4 linked regions of the Homo sapiens genome follow. Changing the gene in region 1 together with any one later gene gives a genetic interaction. Each region holds a gene or a part of one and is shown in the gene's direction. Other genes may lie near its edges. The genes, in order: CCNB1, GRB10, NAV1 and PLEKHO1.

The links.
Region 2: changes in CCNB1 (region 1) and GRB10 together harm fitness more than expected from each alone (negative genetic interaction), as found in Homo sapiens cells (one study listed by BioGRID).
Region 3: changes in CCNB1 (region 1) and NAV1 together harm fitness more than expected from each alone (negative genetic interaction), as found in Homo sapiens cells (one study listed by BioGRID).
Region 4: changes in CCNB1 (region 1) and PLEKHO1 together harm fitness more than expected from each alone (negative genetic interaction), as found in Homo sapiens cells (one study listed by BioGRID).

What each region holds. Positions count from the first base shown.
Region 1 is NC_000005.10:69,165,565-69,173,649, forward strand, and holds the start of CCNB1 (G2/mitotic-specific cyclin-B1), read left to right. Parts: upstream 1-1,585; 5' UTR 1,586-1,698; coding exon 1,699-1,719; intron 1,720-2,343; coding exon 2,344-2,514; intron 2,515-2,608; coding exon 2,609-2,779; intron 2,780-5,705; coding exon 5,706-5,888; intron 5,889-8,085. UniProt on the Homo sapiens protein: Essential for the control of the cell cycle at the G2/M (mitosis) transition.
Region 2 is NC_000007.14:50,665,778-50,673,862, reverse strand, and holds part of GRB10 (growth factor receptor-bound protein 10), read left to right. Parts: intron 1-3,999; coding exon 4,000-4,141; intron 4,142-8,085.
Region 3 is NC_000001.11:201,780,884-201,788,968, forward strand, and holds part of NAV1 (neuron navigator 1), read left to right. Parts: intron 1-128; coding exon 129-426; intron 427-1,292; coding exon 1,293-1,986; intron 1,987-2,522; coding exon 2,523-2,969; intron 2,970-4,426; coding exon 4,427-4,468; intron 4,469-5,545; coding exon 5,546-5,694; intron 5,695-7,584; coding exon 7,585-7,755; intron 7,756-8,085. UniProt on the Homo sapiens protein: May be involved in neuronal migration.
Region 4 is NC_000001.11:150,148,331-150,156,415, forward strand, and holds the start of PLEKHO1 (pleckstrin homology domain-containing family O member 1), read left to right. Parts: upstream 1-1,585; 5' UTR 1,586-1,927; coding exon 1,928-1,957; intron 1,958-2,266; exon of another isoform or gene 2,267-2,581; coding exon 2,582-2,728; intron 2,729-7,735; coding exon 7,736-7,876; intron 7,877-8,085. UniProt on the Homo sapiens protein: Plays a role in the regulation of the actin cytoskeleton through its interactions with actin capping protein (CP).

The sequences.
Region 1 (8,085 bases):
CCATCCTGGCTAACATGGTGAAACCCCGTCTCTACCAAAAATACAAAAAATTAGCCGGCCGTTGTGGCGGGCGCCTGCCGTCCCAGCTACTCGGGAGGCTGAGGCAGGAGAATGGAGTGAACCCTGGAGGTGGAGGTTGCAGTGAGTCGAGATCGCACCACTGCACTCCAGCCTGGGCGACAGATCGAGACTCCGTCTCAAAAAAAAGTAAAAAAAAAAATTTTTAAACTGGAACACAGAGGATAAGTAATCCTGCTTCGCCCCTTGCCTCTCGCCCCTGCATGGGGCGAGGAAGGATTGATCAAACCCAGAAAGACTGAGTGAGAATGGATGTTGAACACAGAACTGAAGGATGAATGGGAGTTACCTGAATAGAACCCAGGGGCTTGAATGCAAGAAGAGGCGGGCATTCCAGGCAGAGGAGAGCAAGGGTAAGGGCCCCACGGGAGGCATTCGAGTAGGAGGGTGAACTATGATGACAGAAGACTCAATAACGATCCAAAGAAACCAAATGATTGGGCGCCTTCTTTCGGATCCGTGACTTCCAGCGCCAGGAGTCTCTATTGGCTCTTATACCGTTGCTCTATGGGATAGCAATGTTTTTGTCCTTCAGCCTCCCCTCCAATTGCTGAGCTGCTGGTGTGTTTTGAGGAGTAGAAGGCAAAAAGAACCCTCTTGTTTTTCTTTGGATCTAGAGAGAATCTGAGCAAATGACAAAGCAAATGGGGTAAAATGTCTTTTTGTTTAGTTTTTCCTGATTTTCCCATGAGAGGCAAATACATGTTAAGGATAGTTGAATCTGAGTAAAGGGCATAGAAATATTCCTTACAAGATTTTTGTTGGCAACTGGTCTAAGTATGAAATTATTTCCAAATAGAAAGCTAAAACAAACAAAACAATTGGCCTTGGGAAACTGGACAATCTTGAAGTAATCAAGTAATATTGTTAAGGGACAATCAGTGTTGTGAAAACAACACGGATACACCCCCTCCCTCCCCCTCAAAAAAAAAAACCCTAAATTCAGTTCCCCCGTTGCTAATGTGTGACCCTGGCAAAGTCATCTAAGTCGCTGAGCTTCAGTTCCTCCAACCCAGAGAGTTGTTGCAACGATCAAATGAAAGAATGTCTATTAAAGCCTTTCATGAACTATATTATTGCTGCTACCGTAGAAATGGAAAGTGTGCAACACTAGATCCAAAACTACTTTTGACACTTCTGAGACTGTGGCCGCGCCTCTGTCACCTTCCAAAGGCCACTAGGCCTTTCCTGAGCTGGCATTGGCAACGCACACTCTTGCCCGGCTAACCTTTCCAGGTGGGCGGCGCACTGGCTTCACTGCTCTCCAGGTGGCCGCTGCAGCTGCCCGAGAGCGCAGGCGCAGAGGCAGACCACGTGAGAGCCTGGCCAGGCCTTCCGGCCTAGCCTCACTGTGGCCCCGCCCCTCTCGAACGCCTTCGCGCGATCGCCCTGGAAACGCATTCTCTGCGACCGGCAGCCGCCAATGGGAAGGGAGTGAGTGCCACGAACAGGCCAATAAGGAGGGAGCAGTGCGGGGTTTAAATCTGAGGCTAGGCTGGCTCTTCTCGGCGTGCTGCGGCGGAACGGCTGTTGGTTTCTGCTGGGTGTAGGTCCTTGGCTGGTCGGGCCTCCGGTGTTCTGCTTCTCCCCGCTGAGCTGCTGCCTGGTGAAGAGGAAGCCATGGCGCTCCGAGTCACCAGGGTGAGCCGCTTCGGACTGCGAACTAACGCGGCCTTCTTAGCTGCTGCCTGCTCTCCCTGCCTCGCCTGCGGGAGCCTCCCGAGCGGGAGAGGGCCGCAGGAGCGATTTGGGGAGGAAGGTGGGAGGGGACTCACCAAGAGAGCGCCGAGGTGGGCCCAGGCCTGGTGAGAGAGTGTGGGGGACGATGGATGGAGGGAGGAAGGTGAGAAAGAGAACTGGACGGATATTGGATAAATGTTTTGGGGAGGTGGAGAGTCGACTGGGAACCTTTTGAAAAAGTGATAGAGGGTCCCTGAGTGGGCCCGCCAGCAACTCTGTAACCCCCTTCCCAGAGAGAAGGTGTCTGCAATTGGAGGCTTTTTCGGTTTCCTTTCAAATGTAAATTCTCGGTATTTTAGGGCTGGCCAGGACTAATCAGGGAATCCCTCAATTGGTAAATGTAGAGGTCGGCGGAAACTGACTTGTCACGGCCGCAGAGTAGACTCTGGGACCCATGTTTTCCCTCGGAACCCATTTTTAGTCGGCTTTCTTTCTGGGAACTTCTCCTTGTGCCCCACCTTAATTAACCCTTGACTTACTCGAGCCTTCGTGGATCAGCTCTTAAAGTGGTCTTGCTTCTTTCAGAACTCGAAAATTAATGCTGAAAATAAGGCGAAGATCAACATGGCAGGCGCAAAGCGCGTTCCTACGGCCCCTGCTGCAACCTCCAAGCCCGGACTGAGGCCAAGAACAGCTCTTGGGGACATTGGTAACAAAGTCAGTGAACAACTGCAGGCCAAAATGCCTATGAAGAAGGTAACTCTCTTCCTGACCTAACTTCTGTAAGAGCCCGCCTTCCAACTGTGGCCTTTGATGCAGAAACATTTCATTCTCTCTGTTTCATCTACAGGAAGCAAAACCTTCAGCTACTGGAAAAGTCATTGATAAAAAACTACCAAAACCTCTTGAAAAGGTACCTATGCTGGTGCCAGTGCCAGTGTCTGAGCCAGTGCCAGAGCCAGAACCTGAGCCAGAACCTGAGCCTGTTAAAGAAGAAAAACTTTCGCCTGAGCCTATTTTGGTAAACTTATTCTTACCATTGTAGAGTCTGTTGATTATTTCTTGTCCCTTATTTCACTGATACATGCAAGAGCATTCAAATGAATAGTAATATTAATACCATTTATTGAGTGCTTAGCATGAGGCAAGCTCTGCCTAACATTTTACATGCATTAACTCACATAATCTTTACACGTACTCTCTGAGGTATTGTCACCTCTACTATTTAAATCATGGCTTTAGAGAGGTTATGTCAGGGTCACACAGGTAAGTGGCCCATATGGGATTCAAGCTCAGGCTGTCTGGCTTCAGAATCTATGCTTTTAATTGTCAACTGTCTTATATTCCTTCGTTAATGATATTAAGTAGTAGCTGTCTGAGCCAAAGGCTTTGTTATCCAACTACAAGCCATCTCTGCAGAATTTATTGGCGTAAACATAGAATGTTCTCTTGAATTTTTTTACTGCTGCATATGGCTACTAAATAATAAGCCTGTAACATTGGAATATGCAAAGGAGTAAAACAGGAAGAAGGCAACTTTTCAGGGAGTGGTTAAGAAGATGAATTAACACTTAGCCTCAAAAATAATAACTTTTTATTAAATATAAGGTATGTAAATGTATTCTATGATAGACCTACCTGTGAAGGAAAGGTAGGTCATGTAGAGGAGGCTGCTTTGATGAAATTGCAATGAACTGTATTCTGAAGCTCTGTTTTTTTAAACTTAGTTAAAACCAGTTGGGAAAATTATCTGAAAAAAACTTGTTGAGACAGAGTCTGGCTCTGTTGCCCAGGCTGGAGTGCAGTGGCGTGATCTTGGCTCACTGCAACCTCTGCCTCCCAGGTTCAAGCAATTTTCCTGCCTCAGCCTCCCTAGTAGCTGGGATTACAGACGCACGCCACCACGCCCAGCTAATTTTCATATTTTTAGTATAGATGGGGTTTCACCATGTTAGTGTACTCCTGACCTCATGATCCGCCCGCCTCGGCCTCCGAAAGTGCTGGGATTACAGGCGTTAGCCACGGCGCCCAGCCAGTTCAGCTTCTTATATCTAAGGATAAGAGATTGAAAGCTATTGCTTTAGTGTTGAATTTCTGGGCATAGCACATGAAATATGTAGCCAGCACAGTCTTTGGGCATATCAAACTACGTGAGGCTTTCTTGGAAGGCCCATACTGATTCTTACCTTTGCTTTCCCACTTAGTAAGAATGCCTTCCCCACCCTGTCTTTCATTTAGCTAATAACCTTTTCATCCTTGAAAACAGCTCAAGCATCAACTCCTGAAGCTTTCCCAAACTTCCCCCATCTCCACCCCCTGTTCCTAGAATCAGTCTTTTTTTTCCCTTTGAGACAGAGTCTCACTCTGTTGCCCAGACTGGAGTGCAGTGGTGCCATCTTGGCTCACCACAACCTCTGCCTCCCGAGTTCAGTGATTCTCCTGCTTCAGCCTCCCAAGTAGCTGGGGCTACAGGCACATGCCACCATGCTTGGCTAATTTTTGTATTTTTAGTAGAGACGGGGTTTCACTATGTTGGCCAGGCTGGTCTCGAACTCTTGATCTCGTGATCCACCCGCCTCAGCCTCCCAAAGTGCTGGGATTACAGGTGTGAGCCACCATGCCCAGCCTTAGTCTTATTTTTGTTTATTTTTTTTTTCCCAAGACAGAGTCTTGCTCTGTCACCCAGGCTGGAGCACAATGGCACGATCTTGGCTCACTGCAACCTCTACCTCCTGGGTTCAAGCAATTCTCTTGCCTCAGCCTCCTGAGTAGCTGGGATTACAGGTGCCAGCCACCACACCCAGCTAATTTTTTTATTATTTTTTTATTTTTTTATTTTTAGTAGAGATGGAGTTTCACGATGTTGGCCAGGCTGGTCTCGAACTCCTGACCTCGTGATCTGCCTGCCTCGGCCTTCCAAAGTGCTGGGATTACAAGCGTGAGCCACCATGCCCGACCTTATTTCTTTACTTTGTCTACTAAATTCAGAGTCCTTTGAGGATGCCATGAAGTCAATGCCTTGTAGAGTTTGACTTCAAGAAGGTGCTCAATAAATGTTTGAACAATGGGATAAAGGGAGCTTGAAGGAAATGGTTAATGGCGATGAAGTTAGTTAATCCTTAGTAGTCAGGATAGAATTTGTGTTGAGTAGTGAGAAGCAGTTTATATTATGAAATAAAGACTAAAGACTGAATTGTCATTTATTTGGACTAACTTCACATGTTGCTGATAAAAATTAATTACTTCTCAGTTTCCTTTGCAGCAAAGTCTAGAATGTGAATTTATTTGCTTCCAACTTTAAACTGACTCACTCTAAGTTGGCATTTCACTGTTTTTTTTTTTGCCCAGGCTGGAGTAGAATGGCGCAATCATAGCTCACTGTATCCTCAAACTCCTGGGCTCAAGTGATCCTCCTGCCTGGGCCTCCTGAGTAGTTAGGACTGTAGGCAGCTGCCTTCATGCCCAGCTAATTTTTTGTAGAGATGAGTTATTGCTATATTGCCCAGGCTAGTCTGGAACTCATGGTCTCAAAGGATCCTCCCACCTCAGCCACCCAAAGTACTGGGATTACTGGCTTGAGCTGTTATGCCCAACCTCATTCTTTTTAATTGAGGAATTAAATGATCACTTTTTTCTTTTTTAACAGAGACAGGGTTTTGCTATGTTGCCCAGGCTGGTCTTGAACTCCTAGCCTCAACCTCAGCCTCTCAAAGTGCTGAGATTAAAGGTGTGAGCCACCGCGCCCAACCCAAATGATCACTTTTGATGTTAATCACTTCCTAAAAAGAAATGGAATAAATCTGAAAAGATACTTTTCCTTTAAGGAAATGAATTGTATGCCGATTCAGCAGAATACTAGCTTGAGTTGGTACCAATAACCTGAACTTCATGCCCAAACTATAGTGCTTACTTCTATTTGCTATTTCAAGATATCTCTTTGTTTCAAGGTTGATACTGCCTCTCCAAGCCCAATGGAAACATCTGGATGTGCCCCTGCAGAAGAAGACCTGTGTCAGGCTTTCTCTGATGTAATTCTTGCAGTAAATGATGTGGATGCAGAAGATGGAGCTGATCCAAACCTTTGTAGTGAATATGTGAAAGATATTTATGCTTATCTGAGACAACTTGAGGTAAGTATTATCATTCGTTTTTTTTCTAAACTGCATCTAACTTTATGAAAGTATTTTCCATCAATAGTTTATAATAATACAAGCAGGACGTGGGCAGCATTTCTTAAGAGATCGCACTTTCAAATTCTCCTTCATGGAATACCTATAATAAAAAGTCACTAAATAAACCAATGGAGTCTATTTGTCACTTTGTGCAGGAAAGTTCGAAGTTAGGGTGGATACTACTATCGCTTTCTAAAGGAAAATCCACAGATTGAATTTGATATGTATATATGCGATCTCCACCACGTTTGGAATGGTTAAGTCCCAAACTCTGCATTTTAGGTGATAACGGGTCAGGAAGTGGATGAGGATGTAGAATATACTCAAAGACTACAGCCACCCCTAACACAAGGCATTTTGTGTTAGTGTGGCTGATGTGCATCCAGTTGTTGGTGAAATTATTTGTGCCCAAAAGGAGTACACTCAAAAGCTACTTTTTTGGTTCACTTCAATTTGATCCCACTTTTGAAACTTTCTATTAATGGCATTTGCCCTTTCCCTACAAATACAAGCACTCTTTATGGCAGCATAAACATAGTAACATAAATTATACTGTTACCACATTTACGTAGTTTTTTTGTTGTTGTTGTTTTGTTTTTTTGAGATGGAGTCTCACACTGTCGCCCAGGCTAGAGGGCAGTGGTGCGGTCTCAGCTCACTGCAGTCTCTGTCTCCTGGGTTCAAGCAATTCTCCTGCCTCGGCCTCCCAAGTAGTTGGGGTTGCAGGCACACACCACCATGCCTGGCTAATTTTTTGTATTTTTATTTGGTTTTGGTTTTTTTGAGACAGGGTCTTGCTCTGTTGCCCAGGCTGGAGTGCAGTGGTGCAATCTCGGCTCAGTCCAGCCTCCGCCTCGGGTCAAGTGATTCTCATGCCTCAGCATCCCGAGCAGCTGGGATTACAGGTGCCCACCACAACACCCAGCTAATTTTTGTACTTTTAGTAGAGATGAGGTATCACCATATTGGCCAGGCTGGTCTCGAACTCCTGACCTTAGATGATCTACCCATCCCGGCCTCCCAAAGTGCTGGGATTACAGGCCTGAGCAACCGCACCCAGCCCCCAGTTGTTTCTAATGTGTTGTCTTATGTCATCACTGACATGTTCATCTCTTGCCTGCTCCTTTTTGGCCTCTCCTTTTTCTATAGGATTCTTCTGCAAGACTTCTTTGCCAGGAGCAGCCTTCTGCTTTTAGTTTCTTCTTCCATCTTTCTAGTGCTTTTTAAAGTTGTGTTCTAACTTTGGAGGATTCAATTTAGTAAATGTGCTGTTTCTTTTTTTTTTTTTTTTTTTTTTGGGACAGAGTCTCGCTGTGTCACCTAGGCTGGTGTGCAGTGGCACAATCTCGGCTCACTGCAAGCTCTGTCTCCCGGGTTCACGCCATTCTCCTGCCTCAGCCTCCTGAGTAGCTGGGACTACAGGCATCCGCCACCACGCCTGGCTAATTTTTTATATTTTTAGTAGAGACGGGGTTTCACCGTGTTAGCCAGGATGGTCTCAATCTCCTGACCTCATGATCCACCCGCCTTGGCCTCCCAAAGTGCTGGGATTATAGGTGTGAGCCACCGCGCCCAGCCTGTAAATGTGCTGTTTCTTGATGCTTCGTTCTTGTTCTGTGCAAGGCCATTTATGCAAAGCAACCCCTCAAGTGGCAGAGGAGCTGAGAAACCAAGGAATTAGGCAGATAAATGGAGTTTGCTGGTATTGGGTGACTGATGAGGGGGAATTTACAGACATAAGTATGGTCTTTGATGGCTGTAAGATGTAGATCTCTGCACTGTAACCCCTCGTACCCACGGCTTGGGTATGTATACATTTTCTTGGGCAAAGTATACATGCTCTAGAATCAATGTGTGGGTGGCTGACAGAATGCTGCAGACATCACAGCCTATAATGTATACAATAATATCAAGGGCTGTTTTGGAGGAAAGGCCAAACTTAAAGTGAATAGGCAGAAGTCACATTGAATTAGTATTTAAAATAAAGTCACTGTTGTCCCCACAGTTCTTAGCTATGTTGCTGTTGGGATTTAACCCAGGAGCAGGCAGGAGTGTTGTAGTACATGGGTTCCAGCTGCCCTGGGAGTTACTGATATTTTCTCTACATAAAGCTCAGGTTCTAAGTTTAGAGGCTTAAGTGAAAAGATCTGAGATG
Region 2 (8,085 bases), on another chromosome or scaffold:
CTCAGATAGATGGAGGCAGAGGTTTTGTGAGCAGAAGAGATGATGCAGATGGGGGCCGGTGCTGAAGCACTTTGTGTGCCTTTTTCAGGAGCCACGTGAGAAAGAGTTCTGGACAGGCGTGTGAAGGGGCTGGGTTTGGGTTTTGACACCAGCATTCTGGTTGCCAGGGGTCGTGGGGGCAGTGGTAGAGGGCAGCAGGGTTGGCAGAGCATGGCCGGTTTGGAAGTGGTCTCAGGAGCCCCCGGATGGGAGATGATTGTGCGCTGCCTGAGGATGAAGAAGGAGGGGGGATTTGAGCACGTTGCTGAGGAGGAGCAGCTGCGTTTTGCCAGCACTTGAATTTTGCCAGGGCTGTGAGGAGACAGAGAGTGTGTGGAGGGTGACTTGGATTTTGTCTCGAGTGCCTGGGAGGAGGGTGTCTAGAGAATGGTCATGTCGAAGGTGAAGGTGCTGAGAGTACCTTAGACATTCTGAATGAAGATCTTTGTAGAATCAAGCTGAGAGCCAGGGGCAGCCCTCAAGGATCCGCCTGTCTGCCCTGTCGCAGTCGGGATGGCGTGGGGCTCCGTGGGACCCTGCGTGCCTCTCTGGGCCTTTGCGGAGGATGTACAGCCATCTCTGCTGGGACTGCCCCTTGCCCTCACTGGCCTCTGTCAGGATGGGGTTCTGGTGCCTTCTGTCTCAGCACCCCATCTTCCGGGGAGCTCTGTTCATTTCCTGGGCTCTTCTTGCTTCTAGAAACTTCTGAGAGTTTTCTTTGTGGTCTGACATCTTGGGTCTTCCGCAGCCCAGATAATCACCTTGCCCCAGGTGGCAGCTGTTTCTTACGGAGGGGAGAGGGTGCAGCGGCCCTGGCGCCCGTGGTCAGCTGCCTCCCCAGCTTCCCACCCCGGCTTCCCCTCCGACTTCTCACTTTTTGTCATATTCATTGATGCTGAATGATGCCTGTCCCAGGGTTTGTTCAACTTTGCTCTTTGAAGCGTGACCCCTTGTACTTAGCTCCTGAGGAGTTAAGTCTGGTGGGAGAGCTGTTTTTCTCTTGGGAGCATCTCTTGGGAGCATCACAGTAGCCTTGGGGAGTGCCTGGGAATATGGAGGTGCAGTTGCATGGCGAAGGTGCCCGAGGGTGGGCTGGAAAGCCAGAAGGCCTGCCTCCCTGCTGGAGTAGTTGCCCAGGACCCTTGAACCTCGAGTTCTGGCTGAACTCGCCCATATGTGCCCCGGGACTACCTGCGCTAAGTCCCTGGGATGGAGGGGCAGGCTTGCTCTGTGGGACAGCAAAGCCCTCTCCCTACAGGGTCACAGGTGCTGTTCCTTGGGCCCAATGTCTTCTCTCTGGTGTCCTCTCAGATAAGTAGTTTTGTTTCTTACTTTCAGGTGGATTAAAAAAAAATGTGGAGATCAATCTGGAATCACCAAAGATTATTTTGTGAAGTGAGGCCATTTGCTGAGTGCTTACTGTGTGCAGATGCTGATGAGCTCCTCCTTGTTATCAGTGCCCTCGGAGGGAGGCAGTGTGGGTTACCCTCGCTTCCCAGCTGAGGAAACCGTGGCACAGCGGGGCGGTAACTGGGCTCACCACATCAGGTGGGAAGTGGCCATGGAGCAGGCTGCTGGGTACCAGAGGTCACGGAGCATGGTCCACGCTGCAGAGGAACTTACCGGGGGCTGCCATGCAACCCGAAGGGAGCTGGGGGGCAGGCAGGGTATGGGCAGAGGAGACACTTGGGAAGGGCAAGAAGGCTTTGCACATAGGAAAGCCGATGGGTGAGCCGATTCTGTACAGAGAAGGAACCCAGGCTTTTGAGAGTGCAAGGGCCACGCATGTGTTCTAGACAAACACAAGTGAGCCAAGGCACAGAGAAGAAGGACCTCGCCCCTCAGCTCTGCAGTTCCTGCCACCATCCCTGACATCCCTAAATCTCAGCACCCCTCTCCATAGTCACTGTCCCTTCTATTGTGAGCCTCTTTGGTGGGGATTTTTTGTCTTTGTGTGATATCCCTTAGTCTTGCCTTAGGCGATGTCTCTGAGCCGCTTTAAAGTCAACACAGGACTTTTTAAAATGCTCAAAACAACCCAATAAATAGAGAAGCTTTTGTGGACACTAAAACGTCAGATTATCTTTTTGGGGTGAAGTCACTGGCTAGAAGCCGTGGATGGGAAAGTGGCACTGGCCACCCGTTTTATCCATCTCCTCCTGTATGACAATGGCCAGACGTTTCAGTTGGACGCCTTGCCAAGGCTGAAGCTGTTATGGGAAGAGTGGGATTTGTTCACAGTAAAAATAAACTTTATGGCATGTCATCAAACCATTATAGGAACGGCTTTCCTGTATTTCGCAGCACTGATTCCCTTCATGCCATGTGAGTTCTCGTAATTTTAAATCCATGCATCATTTGCTGGTCTACGTGGGATAGTTAGCTGGATCTTCCTTTAAAAAATAGGGAAAGTTGGTAAAAGAGAAAAAGTAATACAGTCACAAAATGTGTTTCTGTAGTGGCAAATCTCCTGGGAAAGCTAACGGATTGTTGATTTTGTGAAATCGTAAAAATTGTCAAAAAAATTACTTGAGGACACAGCCTATGATGGGGGTTTCTGAGGTATGTTTAAACATGGGGAGGGATTGGAAATGCCGAGTGAAGATAATGTGAGGTTTGCTCCCCTCTCCTTGAAGGTAGGAGGCTGCAGACAGGGCCGCGTGGCCTCAGGAAGGGTGGAGGAGGCTGTGTGTCCAGGAGTGCCCTGGAGGTGTGGGCCAGAAGTTACTCTACAGAGGGGAGGTGCCAGACACTTGACATTCGCTTTGACTTTGAACTTGATTTCTCTGCTGTTCACAGTTGCTTCTGATTCGTCATACTGTGTGTGTGTTGCATAGTTGTGTGACAAGTGGGTTGTGCATTTTTCGGAGGAGGGAACAGATGCCCCTGGAGATGTGCCAGGAAAGTAGAGGTGGTGTGTGGATTCAGCGTGTGTTTCCAAGGTGTGTTTCTAATGTGGACACAGGCTTTGCGAGGACAGATACATGAAGCTATAATTTCCAGTTAATTCAGTGTCAACAACCTTTTTATATAAGTAACCATCCATTGCATAATTCAGATGAGAACACACAGCCTTTTCTTGTATTTTCATTTGATTAGATTAATGCTCATTTCAAGGACATTGAAAAACACTTGGTTCTCATGAAAATGCTCATATTCAGAAAACTTTCACACATCAGGTATTCACTGATCAAACGGATGAGGTATTTGGAGCTGATGCCATGTCAGGCACTGAATGCTGCCTGAGATGAGCACGCACCCAGGACAACAAAACTTCGGCACCCCGCCCCCCGCCCCCGATGCCTAATGAAGAAGAGAATTGATACCCAATACCCTTTGGGTCTGAGAATGACAACTTGTAATTTTTTTAAAGTTTTCGTTTTAGTAAAATACATGTAACATAAAATTTACCATATTAACTGTTTTTTTCAGGGTACAGTTCGGTAGTATTAATGCACACTCACAATGGTTGTACAATCTCCAGAACTTTCTCATCTTATGAAACTGAAACTCTGTCCCCAATAAACAGCGATTCCCCATTGCCCTCCCCTTAGTCCCCTGGCAGCCACCCTTCTATTTTCTATGGGTTTGAATACACTACCTACCTCACTGGGTGAAATCACACAGTGTCTCTGGTTTTGTGACTGGTGTGTTTGACTCTGCATAATGTCTTCAGGGTTCATCCGTGTCGTAGCCTGTGTCAGAATGTGCTTCCTTTTTCATGGCTGAGTAGTGTTCCATGGTATGGATATGCCACATATTGTTCATCCATTCATCCATCTGCAGACCCTTGGGATGCCTCTACTTTTTGGCTTTTGTGAAGGATGCCACTGTGAACGTGGGCATGCCAGTGACTCCTAGAAGCCCTGTGTCCTGCTTTCTGGGTGTATCACCACAGTGGTAAGGCTGGGTCATGTGGGGAATGGCAGCTTTTAACAGGCACTTATCCCTGCCTTCCAGGCGCCTTCAGGAGGAAGACCAGCAGTTTAGAACCTCATCTCTGCCGGCCATCCCCAATCCTTTTCCTGAACTCTGTGGCCCTGGGAGCCCCCCTGTGCTCACGCCGGGTTCTTTACCTCCGAGCCAGGCCGCCGCAAAGCAGGTGAGTGTGCCCCTGGCTGGAGCCCAGGCTGAGGGATATGCCAGATTATTGGGATCTGCACAGATGTGCCAGATTATTACTTTGGGAAGAAGGGCGGGAAGTCCTGGGATCTTCTCTCTCAGTTCTTTTCTTGTTGTCACAGTACTTGTTGTCCTATGAGGCCGATACAGTTTGGATGTTGTCCCCTCCAAATCCCATGTGGAATTGTAATCCCCAATTTTGGAGGCAGGGCCTGGTGGGAGGTGATTGGATCTTAGGGGTAGATTCCTCATGGCTTGGTGCTGTCCTCACAATAGTAAGTTCTCACGAGATCTGGTTGTTTAAAAGTGCGTGTCATCTCCTCCCCTTGCTCCCACTCCTGCTGTGCGAGACGCCAGTTCCTGCTTTGCCTTCTGGCATGATTGTAAGCTCCTAAGTCCTCATCAGAAGCCGAGCACATGCCCGCACCATGATTCTTGTACAGGCTGCAGAACCATGAACCAATTAAACCTCTTTTCATTATTGATCAAAACTCTGTTTTATCTTTATATTTTAGAAAAAGTCTCATAAAAAATGGCAAATAATAACAATGATTTGATGTTTAAAGATGAATCTTAGTTCTTTGAAAAAGTTTCACCACTGGCTCAATAATAGGTGTGAAAATGCTGGGCTCACCCGGGCACCTGGATGTCAGTACACAGGAGTTGAAGAGTTTCTGTCTTGTAGTCCTGACTTTGAATATGATCTGCCGAAAGCAGAAGAGTTTCCATTGGACCCGCAGGGCAATAACCTCCTTTTTGAACTTGTAGTTTCTACTTAAAGTAGATCCATGAAGTAGATAGGACACAACCATTGTCCCCATATGAGGAAACTGAGGCACAGAGCATTTCAGTAATGTGTCCAAGGTCAAACAGCCAACAAGTCAGCTTAGCAGAGAAACTGGCAGAGAAAGGGGTTGAAAGTTCCTCCCCACCGGTTGGCAGGGCTGTGAGCCAGGATGGGCTGCAGCCTCTGGAGGAAGACCCCTAGGGGTGGAGGTGATCATTAGAACAACTGCGCCATCTGATGTTTATGGAGTGAGGGATTTCTGTGTGCCAGGCCTTGTCGTAAGTGGTGGATATGTTTATTTTTTGTTTATTTATATGTTCATTTACTCCTCATGCCATCCCGTATGAATTAAGTACGCATGTTCCCTCTGTTCCACAGTTGAGGGAAGGGAGGCCCCTGTAAGCAGCTGAGCTGAGTGTGGCTGAGACCTGATGGTGCGGCTGAGTGTGACCCGGCCTCAGAATCGGAGCCTGTGATTGCAGCCACTGTGCTGATTGGCTTCCCGGGACTTTGACTTTCCTTCTGCTAAATGCATATTTAGAAGTCATTTTGCCCTTCTACTTGAATCATCTCTTCTCCCTACTTGCTCTCACTTCCCTACCTTTGCTGTTCTCAAGCAAGACAGGCCAGCCATCCCTTTCTCTGCAAATCTGCCTGTCCTGTGCCATGCAAGGTCTGTCCTCTTGAGAGAGAGACCTTTTTCCAATACCCGCTGGCTCCCAAGTGTGGGTCCCGTTCTGACCTCAGGCCCCCGGAGCAGGCTGCATTATGGCACTATCAAAACTTAGAAGGTGAGGTAAGTGTCCCTCATCTGGGAGCCAGCACTGGCTGGGCTTGTGCACTTTGTCACATGTCTAAAGTGCATCTGGGATGTCTACCTCGCTGGTGACCTTCTGCTTCAAATAAGGATCCAGACAAGCTGTCTGTGGGTTTTGTCACTGAGGTTGTTTACAGAGCTACCCATTCTAAAATAAGACCATGAAAATATTATCTGGCTCTCTCAGCCTTTGGCAAGAAAATTGGCCTCCACCCCCAGGGATTGTCCAAATTTGTAAGCAGAACAAGGAAACCGGGGAATTTTGCCTGCTGGTGTTTTTCTTGGGATCAGAGCTTGTTCCCCATGAGAACGTGGCATTGGTGTCTGTGTCACTCGTGTCCTCAAGCCCACAGAAACGACCAGGAAGGATGTTTCTCACTCAGAACTAGAACTACTTGTAGAAAGTCCTTGTTCTTTGTTCTTTTTTTTTTTTTCCCGACTTGCTTGAAGGGATATTTCTTTATCTGTACTTGGTGTTGACTTCTGATCTCATGAAAAGTGTGTTTTCTCAGTGCAGTCGGTAGCAAGTGCTGGACAACCTCCAGCCACTTCCCAGGGCTTTGGATCTAGGATCACGGTGGGGGATGGTGCTGGGCAAAGAGCTTTGGCTCCATTCCTTGCCCCTTGCTTGAGGAAAAGAGAAATCTGATGTTCTTCTTCCCTTCATTCAAGTCAGAGGAAGTAATGCTGAGACCAAGGTCTAGTCAAGGATTCTGAAGTAGTAGAAAAATTGACAAAGTGGACCCGATACATAAAGTGGCTTTGCTCACAGGGAAGAACTCAGTTAACGTAGGAAAAGAAGAAAGCATAACGAAATCTATGGAAGGTAATGGGATAGTGAGGTGATTGGAAACTTCCTCATTCATGTCATTATGTTCACTATTAAATAGCAGATTCATGAAGAAGGCAACGGGAGGAAAAAGTAGAGATATTTAAACTTCCATGAGAAAGGAAAAATCATTCTTGCCCAAGCTTTGTAGGCAAAGCCTTCTGAAATTCCCACACAGGCATTAGTACCTTTCTTCTGCCTCTCTCCTTTTTTTTTTTTTTTTTTTGAGACAGAGTCTCGCTCTGTCGCCCAGGCTGCTGGAGTGCAGTGGCGCAATCTCGGCTCACTGCAAGCTCTGCCTCCTGGGTTCACGCCAGTCTCCTGCCTCAGCCTCCTGAGTAGCTGGGACTACAGGCGCCCGCCACCACGCCCGGCTAATTTTTTGTATTTTTAGTAGAGACGGGGTTTCACCGTGTTAGCCAGGATGGTCTCGATCTCCTGTCCTTGTGATCCGCCCACCTCGGCCTCCCAAAGTGCTGGGATTACAGATGTGAGCCACTGCGCCTGGCCCTGCCTCTCTCCTTTTTAAGTGACTCCTTGGTAGCTCCGTAATGTGATAAGAGATCAGATGCTGGTGTCCAGAGACCCCAGGTCTGAGAGCAAGCAACTACCATGATGTGGACCTGGCGCTCCTCACAGCATGCTGAGCCCCCTGGCCCGCGTGCTGGGACAGGGTGGGAGAGTGGCAGTGGTCTCACTGCAGCATTTGTGGGCCCTCACGGATCTGAGTTCCACCTGCAGCTCTGGTGTGTCTCCTTTCTAGACATGTAAGATACAAGCTCAGTGCCCTGTAAAGGCTACGGGCCAATGGGACTTGATGAAAGGAAGGAGGGGAGGGAAAATTCTGCATGGGAGTAGTCATGGGTAGAGAAGAGCCCTCAGCCTCCTATTCAACAGCACGCGATTCCTCCAATGCCGCCTCCCTCTGAGCTCTCTGCCTTCGCTCACCTTGAGCCCCTACAACGGGCCGGGTGTTTTGCCAGACCCTGAGACCAAGAGGTTGACCGCAAAGTGGGCCCTGCTCTCGTGAGCTTAGCACGATGGTGACAGAGTGAAGAGCTATCTGAGAGGAAGCAGGATGGAGTAGTTGGTAGTCTAAGACGTGGCAGGCATGTGCCAAAAGAGAGCAGCCATTATTCTATCTAGAAGGACAGGGAGGTCTTCCCCAGCTGCCTTGCGTCCTCTCCCTGGGGATCCCAGAGCATGCAGCAGCCCCAGGCAGGCTTACCAAGTTCTTCCACGATGACTGCACCCTGGCTTCGTGACCCTGCATTGGCCAGGTTCTTCCTGAGTGCTGTGCTGAGTTTGCTAAGGGTACCCATGGGGCTTGCCTGAGTCATCTGGGTTGGCGGGAATAGCTGAGTTTCAAACCTGTGATCCTCCAGCTGTGGGGGAGACGTACACCGGCGCAAAGGGGGCTACTTCTGATCGGAGATCCACGTGCTGGGATGTCACCGTCTGACAGCCCACTCATTCCTTCCTGCCTGGCTG
Region 3 (8,085 bases), on another chromosome or scaffold:
AAACCCTCAGTTTGACTTAATACTCTGAGATGAGCAGCGCCAGGTACTAACTAAAATCAATCCTGTCAGCTATCCAGTCTCCCATCTGCATAGAAGTATCTCACTCTGCCTTTTTCTCTTTTCTTTAGCTACGCACAGACTCAGAGAAGCGCTCACTGGCAGAAAGTGGGCTGAGCTGGTTTAGTGAATCAGAGGAGAAAGCCCCTAAAAAACTGGAGTACGACAGTGGTAGCCTGAAGATGGAACCTGGGACTTCTAAGTGGCGGAGGGAGCGGCCTGAGAGCTGTGATGATTCATCCAAGGGTGGAGAACTGAAAAAGCCCATCAGCCTGGGCCACCCTGGTTCCCTGAAGAAGGGCAAGACCCCACCTGTGGCTGTAACTTCCCCCATCACTCACACAGCCCAGAGTGCCCTCAAAGTCGCAGGTGAGCCTGGAATAAAGGAAGGTACAAGGGCAAAGACCTAGTTCTTTGGTTGCTCCTCTTCTTAGTGGTCATTAACCCATAGGATGATAGCAAACATTTGCATAGTGCTTTAACAGACATTATCTTATCTGGTCTAAGGACAGTCCCGTGAGTTAGGAAAGATGGGTGTTATTATTTCCATTTTACAAATGTGGAGGAAATAGAAACTCAAAGAGATTAAGTGGCTGGGCCAAAATCCCAGTTAATATGAGGTACAGGAGGAAGTATATTATGTTTAGAGACTAGTTTGGCCTCCTTCCAAACACTTCCAATGCTTGCTTTCTTCTTTCTCCCAAGTTAGTCACTCAAGGCACTTATTTTCATAGGATACAGCTTGACATCTCAGGAAGATCCTAAGAAAACAATAAATAAAATGGCTACAGCAAGAGAATTATAGTGCCCCCAAAGTTGGCCCCTTGGGTAACTTTTAGCCTTAATCAACATTTTCCTGTAGTCTCTAATTACTAAGAGATATTGTCATACTCTATTCCATTTGCTTCCCCACCTTTTTTTTCCCTTCCACAACTAGTTGTTAGATGGATATTCTTGATCATCTTTGTGTTTGCCTCTGCCTTTTTAATCAAAATGGACCATTCTACTCTGGGAGCAAAACAAAAAAAATTCCTAGCCTCCCCACCCCTCCCAGCCAGAGTCTTTCAGACAAGAAACTTTATCAGCTTATCTTGTACCTGTTTACCCAAATTTAGGCCTCTAAAAGTCTACAATACATGGACAATGTTCCCTTCTCCCATGGAGGGAAAGAAAAGGGTGGGTTTTTAAGATACTGGTCAGTTTCAGCTCTTTTCTCATTTCCCGTCCTCTTGCAGGCAAACCTGAGGGCAAAGCTACAGACAAGGGTAAGCTTGCAGTGAAGAATACTGGGCTCCAACGCTCCTCCTCTGATGCTGGTCGGGACCGCCTGAGTGATGCTAAGAAGCCCCCCTCGGGCATTGCTCGCCCCTCCACTTCGGGATCCTTTGGCTACAAGAAGCCTCCTCCTGCCACAGGCACAGCCACTGTCATGCAAACTGGTGGTTCAGCCACTCTCAGCAAGATCCAGAAGTCCTCAGGCATCCCTGTCAAGCCAGTAAATGGGCGCAAGACTAGCTTAGATGTTTCCAACAGTGCAGAGCCAGGATTCCTGGCTCCTGGAGCCCGTTCTAACATCCAGTACCGCAGCCTGCCCCGGCCAGCCAAGTCAAGTTCTATGAGCGTGACCGGCGGGCGGGGTGGACCTCGCCCTGTGAGCAGCAGCATTGACCCCAGTCTCCTCAGCACCAAGCAGGGAGGCCTTACGCCTTCCAGACTGAAGGAGCCTACCAAGGTAGCCAGTGGGCGGACCACTCCAGCCCCTGTCAATCAGACAGATCGGGAAAAGGAGAAGGCCAAAGCCAAGGCAGTGGCCTTGGACTCAGACAACATCTCCTTGAAGAGTATTGGCTCCCCAGAAAGTACTCCCAAGAACCAAGCAAGCCACCCCACAGCCACCAAGCTGGCAGAGCTGCCACCAACCCCTCTCAGGTACCCAATGTGGGCAGCCGCCTCCTTGTCTGTTTGCTTTGTCATTCTTTCGCATATCTCTGCCCTCCTTGGACTAGATGAGGCATGGCCTATCCACCGTTGTCTCTAGGCCTTTGCATGGCTCTTTCCCACCTCTCCCCCATATGCCAAGGTTCTGAAAGAATCTAGTTTCTGACAGTTCTGAAAGACTGAATCCCTCTTTCAAAACTTACCTCATTTGTACTATTCTCTGATCAATGCTTACCCTGTCTTCAGCACTTGTATGGGTGTTTTTACTGTTTATTTACACATATATACCTATTTGCATAAATTCACTTGTATCTCCCATGTGCATATGCTGGCCCCTTATCTAAGCTGAATGTGCCCCAAGTTGGGTATCAGATTTCCTTGCATTGTATTTCACAACAGCATTAGGATAAGCCTCTGTGCTTAGCAAATAGGCAGAAAACAAGACTGGATAGGATTTCTTTAAGGTCCTATCTGCCTCTCACTCTGTAATTCTATTATTCTAAATATTTCGTTTGATCTTCTCTCAGGGCCACAGCGAAGAGCTTTGTCAAACCACCCTCACTAGCCAATCTTGACAAGGTCAACTCCAACAGTCTGGATCTACCATCATCCAGTGATACCACCCATGCTTCAAAGGTCCCAGATCTGCATGCTACAAGCTCAGCATCTGGGGGCCCTCTCCCTTCCTGCTTCACCCCCAGTCCGGCACCCATCCTCAATATTAACTCAGCCAGCTTCTCCCAGGGCCTGGAGCTAATGAGTGGTTTCAGTGTGCCAAAAGAGACCCGCATGTACCCCAAACTCTCAGGCCTGCACAGGAGCATGGAGTCCCTCCAGATGCCAATGAGCCTCCCCAGTGCCTTCCCCAGCAGTACTCCCGTCCCCACCCCACCTGCTCCCCCTGCTGCTCCCACAGAAGAAGAGACGGAAGAGCTGACTTGGAGTGGAAGCCCCAGAGCTGGGCAACTGGACAGGTAGGTAGAAAAGACAGCAGAACCTCGGCCTGTCTCCGTGTCTTGGGCTCATTTTGCCATTGGCAATACTATCCTATATTTTATTGCCATTTTGTGACTTTTGACATTTTTTCACATATATTAAGTAATTTAATTTGCTTCACAACAACTCCATGAGATAGGTAAGATGTGTTTTTGTTTTTAAATTATTATTCTTATATTAAAAATGAAGAAACTTGTGCACAAAGAAGTTAAATGACTCATCCAAGATCTCATAATTAGGTTAACCTATCATCCAGAGCTTTTGCTTCCTAGTCCAAAATCATTTTGTTTTGTTTTGTTTGAGATGGAGTTTTGCTCTTGTTGCCCAGGCTGGAGTGCAGTGGTGCAGTCTTGGCTCACTGCAATCTCTGCCTCCCAGGTTCAAGCAGTTCTCCTGCTTCAGCCTGCTAAGTAGCTGGGATTACAGGCACTTGCCACCATGCACGGCTAATTTTTGTATTTTTAGTAGAGACCAGGTTTCACCATGTTGGCCAGGCTGGTCTTGAACTCCTGACCTCAAGTGATCTGCCTACATCAGCTTCCCAAAGTGCTGGGATTACAGGCATGAGCCACCACACCTGGCTGCCCAGAATCTTTTCTTTTATATCACATCCTAGTTTTCCCCTCCCTTCCCCCTATATGCCAAGGTTATCAAACTACCTATATGGTAGTTTTTACCTACCATAATACGATCTATTTTTTTTTTTTTTTTGAGATGGGGTCTCACTATGTTGCCCAGACTGGACTCAAAACTCCTTGGCTTAAGCAATCCTCCTGCCTCAGCCTCCCGGGAGCTGCAACTACAGGCTCATGCCACTGTCCCTAGTGCCATAATATGATCTTTTAAATAACTAACTATGCCTTAATTTCTTTTTTGTTTGTTTGTTTTTTGTTGTTGTTGTTGTTGTTTTGAGACGGAGTCTTGCTCTGTCGCCCAGGCTGGAGTGCAGTGGCGCGATCTTGGCTCACTTGCAAGTTCCACCTCCTGGGTTCATGCCATTCTCCTGCCTCAGCCTCCCGAGTAGCTGGGGACTACAGGCGCCCACCACTGCGTCTGGCTAATTTTTTGTATTTTTAGTAGAGACGAGGTTTCACCGTGTTAGCCAGGATGGTCTCGATCTCCCGACCTCGTGATCCACCCGCCTTGGCCTGCCAAAGTGCTGGGATTACAGGCGTGAGCTACGGCGCCCGGCCTAACCATGACTTAATTTCTAATCAGAGAAATAACATTTAATATTTCAGATAAATTTCCCAAGTTGTAAGCCAAGAAGCAGGCTATAGTATCTCTTGGTTTCTAGAGCTAAAGCAGGTCATAGTTTGATGTCCTGCGTCTAGGGTCTGCATACCTCACACCAATGGTCCTAAACTCTAGTTCCTAAGATGGACCCACATGCTTCTCTCTCTCTCTCTTTTTTTTTTTTTTTTTATCTCCACAGTAATCAGCGGGATCGGAACACTCTTCCCAAGAAAGGGCTCAGGTAACCCTTTAATGTGTTTTTTCTTCCCTATAAATGGGACTGCTGGTATGTATGAAAAATCATATCTCAACCTGTCCAAGGCTCCAGTCATGAATTTAGTCACCCTTTTAGCTGAATCATTTGTATGTGGTCCCATACAAGTACCACCTAGTACCTTGCCCAAGCTTAATATTATGTGAGTCAACTTTTACAGCAAGTGTTCTTTTTTTGGTGACAGGGGAGAAACAAGTTTGCACATGGGAATCATGCACTTACCTGTACTAGCCTATGCCATCCCAATCCTGGCTGAGCTTCATCTCTGTAATTTTCTTCCCTAAAAGTATGAGGGAGAACAGTCTGCTTCTTTGGTCACTCAGCTGGGCTAGGGGCAGGACCTACCTGGTCATCCACTGTTCTGACAGCACTGAGTTGTTCAGTTGGGTGGCAACTATTGCAACTTTTTTTTTTTTTTTTTTTTTTGAGACGGAGTCTCGCTCTGTCACCCAGGCTGGAGTGCAGTGGCACAATCTCAGCTCACTGCAACCTCCACCTCCCAGATTCAAGCGATTCTCCTGCCTCAGCCTCCCGAGTAGCTGGGGTTATAGGTGTGCACCACCAAGCCTGGCTAAATTTTGTATTTTTAGTAGAGATGGGGTTTCACCATGTTGGCCAGGCTGGTCTCAAACTCCTGACCTCAAGTGATCCACCCACCTCAGCCTCCCAAAGTGCTGGGATTACAGGCATGAGCCACTGTGCCTGACCGACTCTTGCAACTTGAAAGCCCACATGTGGAATCATAAGTCTCTGTCCTGAACTTCTGAGGAGAAGTTCTAATGCCTCCTCCATCACTTCTGCCCCCAGCTCAGGAACCCTTACGGGAATACCTGCTAGTCCTTCCACACCCTCTGGATGGTCTGGGAGAGGAGGCTGAGTCGCCACCTCTTACTCCCTCCTTGGGCAGCCCTGACCACTCCCTCTTTTCCATGTCCTGCTTTCAGAATCTCCTGGCTCCAGCCTAGTTCAGACACCCTCCGCACCAACTAAACCTCTGACCGCACTTGCTAGTCCCAGACTGAGTTCTTCTGCTGCTTCCTACAGGTACCAGCTTCAGTCCCAGGAGGAGACCAAGGAGAGGCGACATTCCCATACCATTGGTGGGCTGCCTGAATCCGATGACCAGTCAGAGCTGCCTTCTCCCCCTGCACTTCCCATGTCTCTGAGTGCAAAGGGCCAACTTACCAACATAGGTTAGTGTTTTCAGTCACTCACTGTGGCATGGGGTGAAGCAGGGGTCACCCTGCAGGGTGAGGCAAGGCAGGTGGGCTTTGGGTTTCATCTCATGTTTGACTCATGCTGTATTGGGTTGTTTCATGGTGCCTCAGTTTATCCACCCAAAGTAAGATTGAAGGTAGAGTACTTTGAGATCCTAAACTGAAAAGTTGCCCCTAGGCACAAGTTGTAGGGTCCTTTTAGCATCAGAGAGCCTGAATGGTGGCATGGAAAAGCTGTAACCCAAAGCCCAGAGATCAGACCAGTGCAAGAGCAGGCACATTGAACTGCCGGAAAGGAGCCACCACACCCAGTACTACTAGGGCCAGCTAATGAGAGGGCAATACTGAAATGTCAGGCCGACGGGGAGGAAGGAGGGAAAGGTTGTTGATTGCCAAGGACGAGATCTGCCTCCAAACTCAGCCAAGTCCAGATTCCTCAACTGCTCTGGCTGAGCCCAGGCCATCCTAACGCTGAAGGCAGGGCTGACTCAGATGTGTCCTGGCCACCCCCTTCCTAAAGCCTAGGGAGAAAGGAGAGCTAGGAAATAAGGAAGTGACTTAGAGACAGGGAGGAGAGGAAGCATCAGGTGGAGGGTCTGGCCTAGCACAGAAGCACACCAGCTCCGGTTCTGTGAAGCAGTACGCCATGATTGGCCTACTAGGAATCCATTCAGGAATAGTGCCTGGGATAGGCCTGTTATCTGCTTGCTGCATCTCTTTAAATCCATCTCTTCTTTCAGCTGAGTAAAAGAAATCAGTTAATAAAAGACAAGGACCTGTAACACACCCATGCAGTGACTGTGGGGAATTTGAGGAAAGACTAGGAATTGGGATCACTTGGCCTAGGGAAAAGAACCATTGTTCAGACAGGATCATCTGCCCTCTGAAGGGCTACTAAATGGAGGATGGGGCCAGCTTGTTCTCTATCTCCATTGAAGACCAAATAAGAAGAATTGCATTTATGCTGCAGAATGAGGGGCTGGGCTAAGCAATAATTACCTCAGGAATTTGAAAAGGTCAACAGAGAGGTGTGCCATCTTCTTCTGCACAGGTCTTTATGGACAGATTAGACATCCACCTGCCTGTATGGAGGCAGAAGAATAGACAAGGGAGCTCCTTGTGGGTATGAAACCCTGAAAGGCTGTAATCCCAGCAATGGGCAAAGGGGTAAGGCATCTGCAGGTTAACGGGATTCAGCTGAACCCAGCTTCAAAGCACATTCCACAAGCCTTACCTGACACTTTCACCTGCTCTGTCCATCTGACCTTCAAGCCGGGGCAATGCTAGGCAAAGAGGGCCATGTTTCTTGATGCTTTAGCGCCAACCCAGTCACTCAGAGTGACACTACTTTGTGGGGAGATTCTCACGCCCTTCCACAATGCCAGGGCAACGGGATCCCGTAGCCCAGCCCCCTTCTCTAGCTGGTGCTTTTTCATCATTCAGATCTGGGTCTTGGTTTGAATTTTCAGTCCTCCTGAGCTGGCAGTTGTGTTTTAGAGAACCACAGCATCTCATTTTCATCAGCACATCCGAGTGATGTGAAGGTCTCAGAAAAGCTGCCAGGCCCCCAGCCTAACCTTCAAAAGCAACAACTCTGAGGCAGGCAGGGTTGAGGGAAGGTCTTTATTCCAGACAGCAGGGTCCTTCTCCATTAGGGCTTGATCTCCCCAGGAGGGACCCCGCTCCTAACCACCAGCTGCTTGCACACTCCCACCACCGCACCTGCCCCTTCCTCTCCTGCCCTCTCCCCATTTGCCTCTCATGCTCCCGGTGCTCCATCCCCCAAGGGCCCGGAGAGCTGATGACCCTGCCTCTTTTCCTGCCCTCCTGCTCCCTCTCCTGTCCCCCTTCCCTCTGTCCTTCCAGTGAGTCCCACTGCGGCCACCACGCCAAGAATCACCCGCTCCAACAGCATCCCCACCCACGAGGCGGCCTTCGAGCTGTACAGCGGCTCCCAAATGGGGAGCACCCTGTCCCTGGCCGAGAGACCCAAGGGAATGATTCGGTCAGGATCCTTCCGAGACCCCACGGACGATGGTGAGACTTCATGCTAGCGCGGTTCACGCTCATTCCAGCTCTGCTGGGTCCCCTCACCCACCACCTCCACTCCCACCACTCCTACCACCACACACATATATGATTCACAGAACATCAAGTTGGGCCATTTCAGTTTTTTCTCCCCATCCCTTTGAAGGGTCTGGGGACCCAGAAACCTTGGGTGGCACATCTAGCACTGGGGCATTGGGATGGAGCATCCATCACTGGGGCTGGGGGAGGGAAATTGAGCATGGAAGGGTTAAATGGCATCCCTCAGGATGCTCTGAAAACCACAGCTTCTCTCCTCCTCATTCTAGCCATAGTCTTTCC
Region 4 (8,085 bases), on another chromosome or scaffold:
TACAAGGTGGCATTAAAAGTGTAAAGAAATGACATATAAGAGCATTTTGAAAGGATAAAGTTCTGTGTCAGTCTAAAATCGTGGAATTAATTGGTATGGTGAATGGAAAGAAGTTGAGAGGAATATCATTGGATTAGGAGGAAAGGTGGAACTGGAAAAGAGAGGGAGCCCCTCCTTCATTTGACAGACACCAGAAAAAGTCAAAAGAGCCTCCACTATTCAAACCACAAATCTAGCCAACACTTTTATCTTGAGACATCTCTGGAAAAATGATTTTTCCTTTTCCCTGCTCCTCAGTGCCAGGGATTTTTATTCATTTTGTGGTTACTGCATGCTTGCCATATGCCAGGCAATGTGTTTATTAGCTTATTATGATTTCAAAATTAGCCCTGGAAGACAACACATATCTTCAAAGGACTCTCAGAGGTCATCTCATATCTTCCCCTAGCTTTCCTTGTTGATAAAAATGGCAGTTCATCCCTCACCACTTAATACGTGGAGGGACGCGGGCCTAAAGAAATTCAGTGACTTGACCAAAGCCCAGAGTGGTGATGAAACCAGTACCCAAGCGCGGGGTTTCTCACTCCCCTTTTCCATCACACGTATATATATTAAAAAGACATGAAGTTACTAAGATGTGTCCTGGAGGCTCTGAGGCAGATCTGCTGTAGGAGGGATCAGCAGAGGCTTCTCTAGTCAGGGCATTCTCTGGGCGTTCAGCCCTTCCCTCCACTGGGCTCCAGCGCTGTAGAGAGGGTGGGGTTTTTACCTATCAGTATAGCGGGAAAAGATACCCAGGTGGCAGGAAGTTTAAGCCTCACCTGGAACTTATATTGAAAGCCACTTGGTAGAAAGGATAATGGTTTGGAGACAGAGTTCTATTCCTGCCAGCATTGACACTGTGTCTGAAAAGCCAGCATCGACACTGTGTCTGCAAATCCCTCAGCTATTCTGAGTCTCCGTTTTCTCCCTGTGAGATGGAGATCATAAAATCCGCCTCATCCTTAGGATTATTCTCCTGAAGCTACAATAAGGCCTGAGGCATTGTACGCTGGAAGAAACGTGTATTAATAGCAACTTCTGTCCCACCCCATCCCCCAACACGTCGATCCCCTCCGGAGCATAAAACTTTCCCCCAGCATCTGACCTGCCCAGGCCACCCTAGCACCTAGGAGCGTGAATTCCTGATGCGGGTTGTGGGTGGCGCGCCCTCCCGGTTCCCGCTCTCGTTTTTGTTTTTGGTCGGGTAAGGCGATGCTGTAGAGGCTGGCGATCTCCAGTCTTCACGAATCCGCACGTCTCTCCATTATCCACCGCGCCCGCCCACTGGGCCCCGGGGCGGCCGGCGGCCGGGTCTCTCGGGCTCCGCGTGTCGCCCGAGCCGCCGCCGGAGCGAGGGTCCCTGCCCCCTGGGGAGCGGTCTCCAGCCGCTTCGAAGCCGCCTTCTTCCCCCTCCGTGAGTCAGAAACAAAGGCGGGGGGGCGGGGGGAGCGCCCGAGCTGCGGCTCCGCGATTCGCCCTTTATTCTGAACTCGCAACGTCAGCGGCCCGCGGATGGAGCTGCGGGGTGCGGACTGGGCCGCCCACAGCGCACCGGGCCGGGGGAGCGGCCGCGCTGGGCCGGGCGGGCGGGTGGCGGGGGTGCGCTCGGGGACCCGGGCCGCGTGGGCGCCGGGATGGAGGGCGCCAAGGGGCGGGGAGCGGGCGTGCGTGTGTGTGCGAGTGCGAATGCGAGGGAGGCCGGCCTTGAGTGAAACCGGAGCTACAAAGAAGGGGAGAGTCCGGGAGCGGGAGGGCGCGAGGGAGGAGCGGCGGCGCCGGGGCAGCTCCGACGCCCTCCCGCGGGGAAGGAGCCCCCGCGGTGCCGCCGAGGCCCCGACGCGGGGCCGCCCCTCGGCTCGCCGCCCCGCGCCCGCGCCCGCTGGGAATGATGAAGAAGAACAATTCCGCCAAGCGGGTGAGTGCGCTTGCCCGCCCTGCGGCCGCCGCCGCCTCCGCGCTCTGACGACCCCCGCTCCGTCGGCGCCGCGGCGGCCTGGGAGACCCACGGCCCGGCCGCGCCCCCGCCCCGGCGGCCCGGTCCCCTCGGCCTCGGCCCCGCCAGGCGCCCGCGGGGGCTTTTGTTTGTTTACTCGCCTCGGGGGGCTTCAACTTGGCTGAGTTTCCCCACGACCCGCACCTCCCCCGCCCCCGGGCGCCGGGCGAGCGTTTGCCTCGCGCTCCGCCGTGGCGAGGAGACAATGGGAGAGAAAACCAGAGAAACGCCGTTAGTCCCCGCGCGGCGAGGACGGGGCGGCGGGGGCGCAGGGCCTGGAGGGAACCTGGGAGCCTCTCCGCGCCCGGCCGGCGCCCCTGCCACTTGCAGCCCCGGTTGTTTATTCGGGAGCGGGGGAGGGGAGCGGGGGGAGTTCCTCGGAGTGAAAACCTTTCCGAAGTGGGAGCGAACCTGGGGCGGCCCCCCGCCCCCCGGCCGCAGCCTTCGGAGGAGACTGGGCCGCCGAGGCGGTCGTGAGAGACGGACGGAGAGGAAGCGCCGGCTGGAATCTCCTAACCGCCCGCTTCTCATCTTGTCCTGGGGCAGGGACCTCAGGATGGAAACCAGCAGCCTGCACCGCCCGAGAAGGTCGGCTGGGTCCGGAAATTCTGCGGGAAAGGGATTTTCAGGGAGATTTGGAAAAACCGCTATGTGGTGCTGAAAGGGGACCAGCTCTACATCTCTGAGAAGGAGGTGGGTGCCTCTTGCCTCTAACTCTCCGTTTTCTCATAGCCCCCACTTTGTCACTCCCCAAGGGCTCGCCTAGCTTACTCCACCCCCGTTTTGTTCCAAAGGCAAGTTCAGTGGTCTCCTCTCTACCCCCATCTCATCTGCAGAGAAAGGCCACCCTTTAATGAGAAGACCAGAGTGAGAATTAGAAGTTGAGTTGGCCGCTTACTCAGTGTTTTTTTGTTTGCAAATACCTTTCTAACAACGATAAGCCCCTCCCAAGATGCCCCAGAAGTTCTAAGTGTCCCTTGCTGCCTCCCACCCTAACCTGGCCTCCTGCATATAGGATTTCTTTTCTATTTCTGCTGAAACAGTTTAGCCTATTCGCCACCCCTTCCTGTCCCCCCACCTTAACCCAGCCAGCCTCCCCTTTCCTGTCTGTGGCAGGAGCGTGCACAGGTCCTGTCCGTGGCGCATCCGCCCTGAATCACAGAAAACACGCACCCCGCCGTCAGGCCCCTGTGACCTCGGGTGTGTGAGTGGCAGTTATTTTCGTTGAAGCCAGTGTCCCTAACCAGTATGCTCTCTGTTCCCCACCCCCACCCCATTTAAAAAAGGCAAGGAACCCATTTTCTACCCACTTCCTGCCCACCCCTCCATTTGTATCAGAAGGGAGAGAAATGGAGTTAAGAACCCCTGTATGTCTTTGGATAGCTTTGGCTGTGTAGTTAACCATGAAAACCACAGTCTACACTGTGTCAAGACCTGAGCTATGATAATTGAATCCAGACCCATCTCCCTTTTTTCCCTAAGTCTTGGGATCAATAACGTGTACTAATGTGGAGAAATCAGAATTGCCCCTACAGTGGTTAGAAGTCATTCCATTCCCTGCCTCTGTGACTGTCCAAAGGCAGTCAGTATAGCCTGGAAGACTGTCCTGTGTACCGGTTAGAGTGGCCCTTCCTCCCGCCCTCACGGGAGGTATTCTGTGTTCCCTCACCCAGGGCTAACTGGGAAGTCCTCCCTGAGTTCTAACCTCTTCTGCTTTCTGCAGTAGACATCCTTATTCAGTAGATTATATTTAGGTAAATAAAACCTTTTATGGTATTGAAACATACACACACACACCCTGAGACAAAGTACTCATCTAAAAGAACATCTACTGAGGCATCTAGGGAAGAACTAAGCTGTGCCACAGCCAAAGAGATCCCTCTTAAGGGTATTGAAACCTAGCTGTTTACACAAAACTAGCAAGTTGGTGATGGAAAGTCTTAGGAGTGAGGTGAGGGCACTTTTCTTGGTCTGTCATCCAGGCAGGAATGCAGTGGCTCAATCACAGCTCACTTCAGCTTCCACCTCCCAGGCTCAAGTGATCCTCCCACCTCATCCTTGGAGTAGCTGGGACTACAGGTGGGTGCCACCATGTCTGGCTAGTTTTTGTATTTTTTGTAGAGACAGTGTTTCGCGTTGTTGACCAGGCTGCTCTCAAAACTCCTGGCCTCAAGTGAACCACCCGCCTCAGCCTCCCAAAGTGCTGGGATTACAGGTGTGAGCCAACCGTGCCTGGCCAGGAGGATTTATTTTTAAGAGTTACCTCTGCCCAATCACAAATCCTCCAGAAAGTTTTCTCCACAATTTTCTGGCTTTCTAAATTAAAAAAAAAAAAAAAAAAAAAAAACAAGTGTCAAAGTGTATCTCCTGTCTTCCCCGAACTTCTTAATTGCAGGAAACTCTAGTTACGAATCAGGGAGAACTTCCTACACATCAAAGAGAAAAACATAATAGTGAAAGGGTAAGAGGAATAAGACATCCATTGCTTGTTTGTATTTGCCCAAAGAGCAGAGTCTGGGGGCAAAAGCGTAGTTGATCCTTGCTTTTAGGTACAGAGACAGAGGAAAGGATGGAATGACCTCAGCCTAGGATATCTGGTGTCCTATGAGTCAGGACCATCTGACTGGTCATGGAGCCAGCTGTCTCCTGCTGGGAAGGGCACAGGAAAGAGGGACTAGGCATATTGATACTGTGCTTTTTTAGAGCCAGTTTCAATGCTACAGTGGGCCTGGTTAAAAAGTGAAATTGACAGAGTACTCTGGGCTTTATTTTGCCCACTTGTGAAAAGCTCCAGGGCCAATAGAATCAAGACACGGTGTTCTGTTTTGTTTTGTTTTTTAGAGACAGGGTCTCACTCTGTCGCCCACGCTGGAGTGCAGTGTCACAATCGTAGCTCACTGCTGCCTTGACCTCCCGGGCTTAAGCAATCCTCCCACCTCAGCCTCCGGAGTAGCTGGGACTACAGGCATGCACCACCACACCCAGCTAATTTTTTTTATTTTTTGTAGACATGGGGTCTCACTATGTTTCCCAGGCTGGTCTCAAATTCCTGGCTTCAAGTGATCCTCCTGCCTCAACCTCCTGAAATTCTGGGATTATAGGCGTGAGCCACAGTCCCTGACCAAGATTTTTTTTTTTAAGGCAGAGTATAATCTATATCATTTACTGTTAATGCAAGAAAATTTCTAACCCTATCTCCCAGAATTTTCACCAGTCTCTTTTGTTATTTCCTCTCTTAAAGGCAGGGTCTCCCACAACCACCTCTGCCGTAGAATTTCTTCTGTGTTCGATAGTAATCATTTTCTTCCTTCTCAAAGGGCATCCTCTCTCAAAGAGGGCTGGAGCACCTTATGATCACAGGCTGATGTGTAAGAACAGAAGCTAGACCTTAGGAAGACCTCATGGTGGAGGAAATTGGATTCGGGGCAACTCTTTGGACAGGCGTGGGAAAAATCCCTTTCTATAGTCAAGGACGAAGAATCAGGGGAAAGGAAGGGTTAATTTGGAAGATGGGTAGTTATAAATGAGACTCTGGGAATTAGATATGTGGGGAAAAAAAAAACAATATGGTGGAGAACAAGGCTGCTTGGCTTTGTCCATCTTCCCAGGCACTGGAATATACTTGTCCTACTGCTTGCCTCACCCCATCTCCCACCCTCTCCACCAAGGGCTAACCTCTATCAGTGTCTCCTGCTCCCCAGAGCTCCTAATCAGTCTGTATGCAAGGTAGAATAACTCCCTTTCCTTCCCTTCCCCTAAGGAAAACATAGTAAGTTAACTCTCTTCCCCTGGCTACATTCACACACCCAACACTTTCCTCTCCACGGTTTCTGGGCTCTGCTGATAGTCTCAGCTCTGGAGAAGGAGGGGGAGAGGAGGGATGATGCATCATCTTGTATCCCTGTCCCGTGTTTCTGGGAATTGCTCTTGGACACCCCTTGCCAGCACCTTGTCCTACTTCCACCCGTAATCATTCAAGGCCTCTGGCCACTTTCCAGCCCAAAGCCAGGGAACCCTGGAAAGTGGGAGGCCCTGGAGGAGCCAAGCCTTGCTGAAACAAATGGAGGTAGATGTATGAGGCGTCACTCACCTGAATGGGGCCATGTTGACATCTGTCCTCATCTGTCATCAGCCTCCAGGTCCAGCAGCAGTTCAGAAGGATGGGCAGATACAAGACTGTAGATGGTCTGGGTAATGGAAGGGAGAACCACTTCCCCACTTCCAGGTTTCCAGGAACCAGGAGGATAGATGAGTTCACCTCCATGCACACGAGTCCTATTTCAGAACTTGGGAAGTTGGGGACTGTTTTGGAAAATAATTTCAGTCAGGGTGGGTAGATGTCATCCAAGGAAGACGTGAGGCTACTTTTATCTGTTTGTTTAGTTTTAATGAGACAAGTGCTGGTGCTTTTAATTCTCATTCCAGGAAAACGTGACCAGGTTTTTCCTGAGGTGTTCCAACCCTGGGCTCAAGCCACGGAGGGTGGACAGACTGCACGGTCTGGACTTGTAACTAAGTCTCCTCTCTGTAACTTTGGTCCTTGCTAGCCAAAACAAATCCATAAGCCACTGCTTCAGAGTCCCAGAGTTGTAGGAACACCACCTTAGGGGAAAAGAGAAAACATTGTGGTCAGTTTCAGATGAACCTGCGAAGAAATGTTCCTAGAGCTGCTTTGCAGTGCTCAGAAAAGGCTAGTTGGGGTTGGAGAATGTCACTAGGAATGCGGCCTCGATGAGACGTTCAGCAGGAGTGCTAAGAGCTAAATGTTGCTTAAAACCTGCTAAAGGTGGAACCAGAGTGCGGGACGGAGACTATAGCAGGGAGGGCTAAGTTTAGATAGGAGGAAGAGCTTCCTGGCAGTAAAGGGGGCCCAGGCACTCAAACTGGAATAATGGCAAGAAGTCACAGAAGTCACTTTTTTCCAAGTCTAAAGTGTAGTCTCCCAGGGAGAGTCTAAGTGCATTCTTGCCTAGAGATAGGGGGTCTGGAGGAGTTAGTTTGGATTGTCACAGTACCTTAGAGGGAGGAGGAAAGGGTAGGAACTGTAATTGTAGTTTTCAGCTTCTCTGGACAAATTCAGCAAACTGAACACGGGGCTGCCGTCCTGTGGTGGCGATGCTCCTGAAATGAACAAGGAAGATGAGTCTCTATAATTGTACATACCAGAGAAGGAAGCGAGGTGGGGTGGGAGAGCTATACTGCACACATGTGAGTGGGGAGGCCAGAGACCGCCCCTCGTTCCCTCCAGACACCCCGATAACTGGCCCTGCCTTGATCTTCTTTCTGTGGACCATCAAGGGCCATACAGGTCTGTCTTACTGAGGGCAATGGATCAACCATCTACCATGTCCCTTTAAGGACGTGAGCCTTTTTAGAACATGTAAGCTGTGTCCTTAAGGAAAAGAGTGGGGCGGTTGGTGAAGAGAGGCATAGTGGGACTCTGGAAATGGCAGCCTGGCTAAGGAGAGTGAAGAGAAGGGGTTTAAACAGAAACACACCTTAACATTCAAGACTTGGAGCTGCCCTAGCGTCCTCCTCGATGTGAGGACCTTGTAGGCTTTGGGCAGACGGCCCTCTCCTCTCCTGGCGTGCCTCCCTCTCCTCAGGCTTCCTCTGTTTCCCAAGATGATCTAAACTAACAGTCTGGGTGGAGGGGCTAAATAATTTTATCCTCCTCACCTCACCCCAACCCTCCCCTAGGTAAAAGATGAGAAAAATATTCAAGAGGTATTTGACCTGAGTGACTATGAGAAGTGTGAAGAGCTCCGGAAGTCCAAGAGCAGGAGCAAGAAAAATCATAGCAAGTTTACTCTTGCCCACTCCAAACAGCCCGGTAACACGGTATGTTTCTCCTGCCACCTTGGCTGCTGGAACATGGACAGGGTTGGAGGGGGCAGGGGAGAACTCCTTCCCCTCAGTTTCTCTCTCAGCAATCTTGGTTCAGATTCCCTGAATTGCTCTCCTGCTGGCTTTTATCATTTCACCTGAGAATATTGTAGCCATTTCCTTCTTTCCAGGCAGGCCACCCTTTAACCTGTTCAGCCACAAAG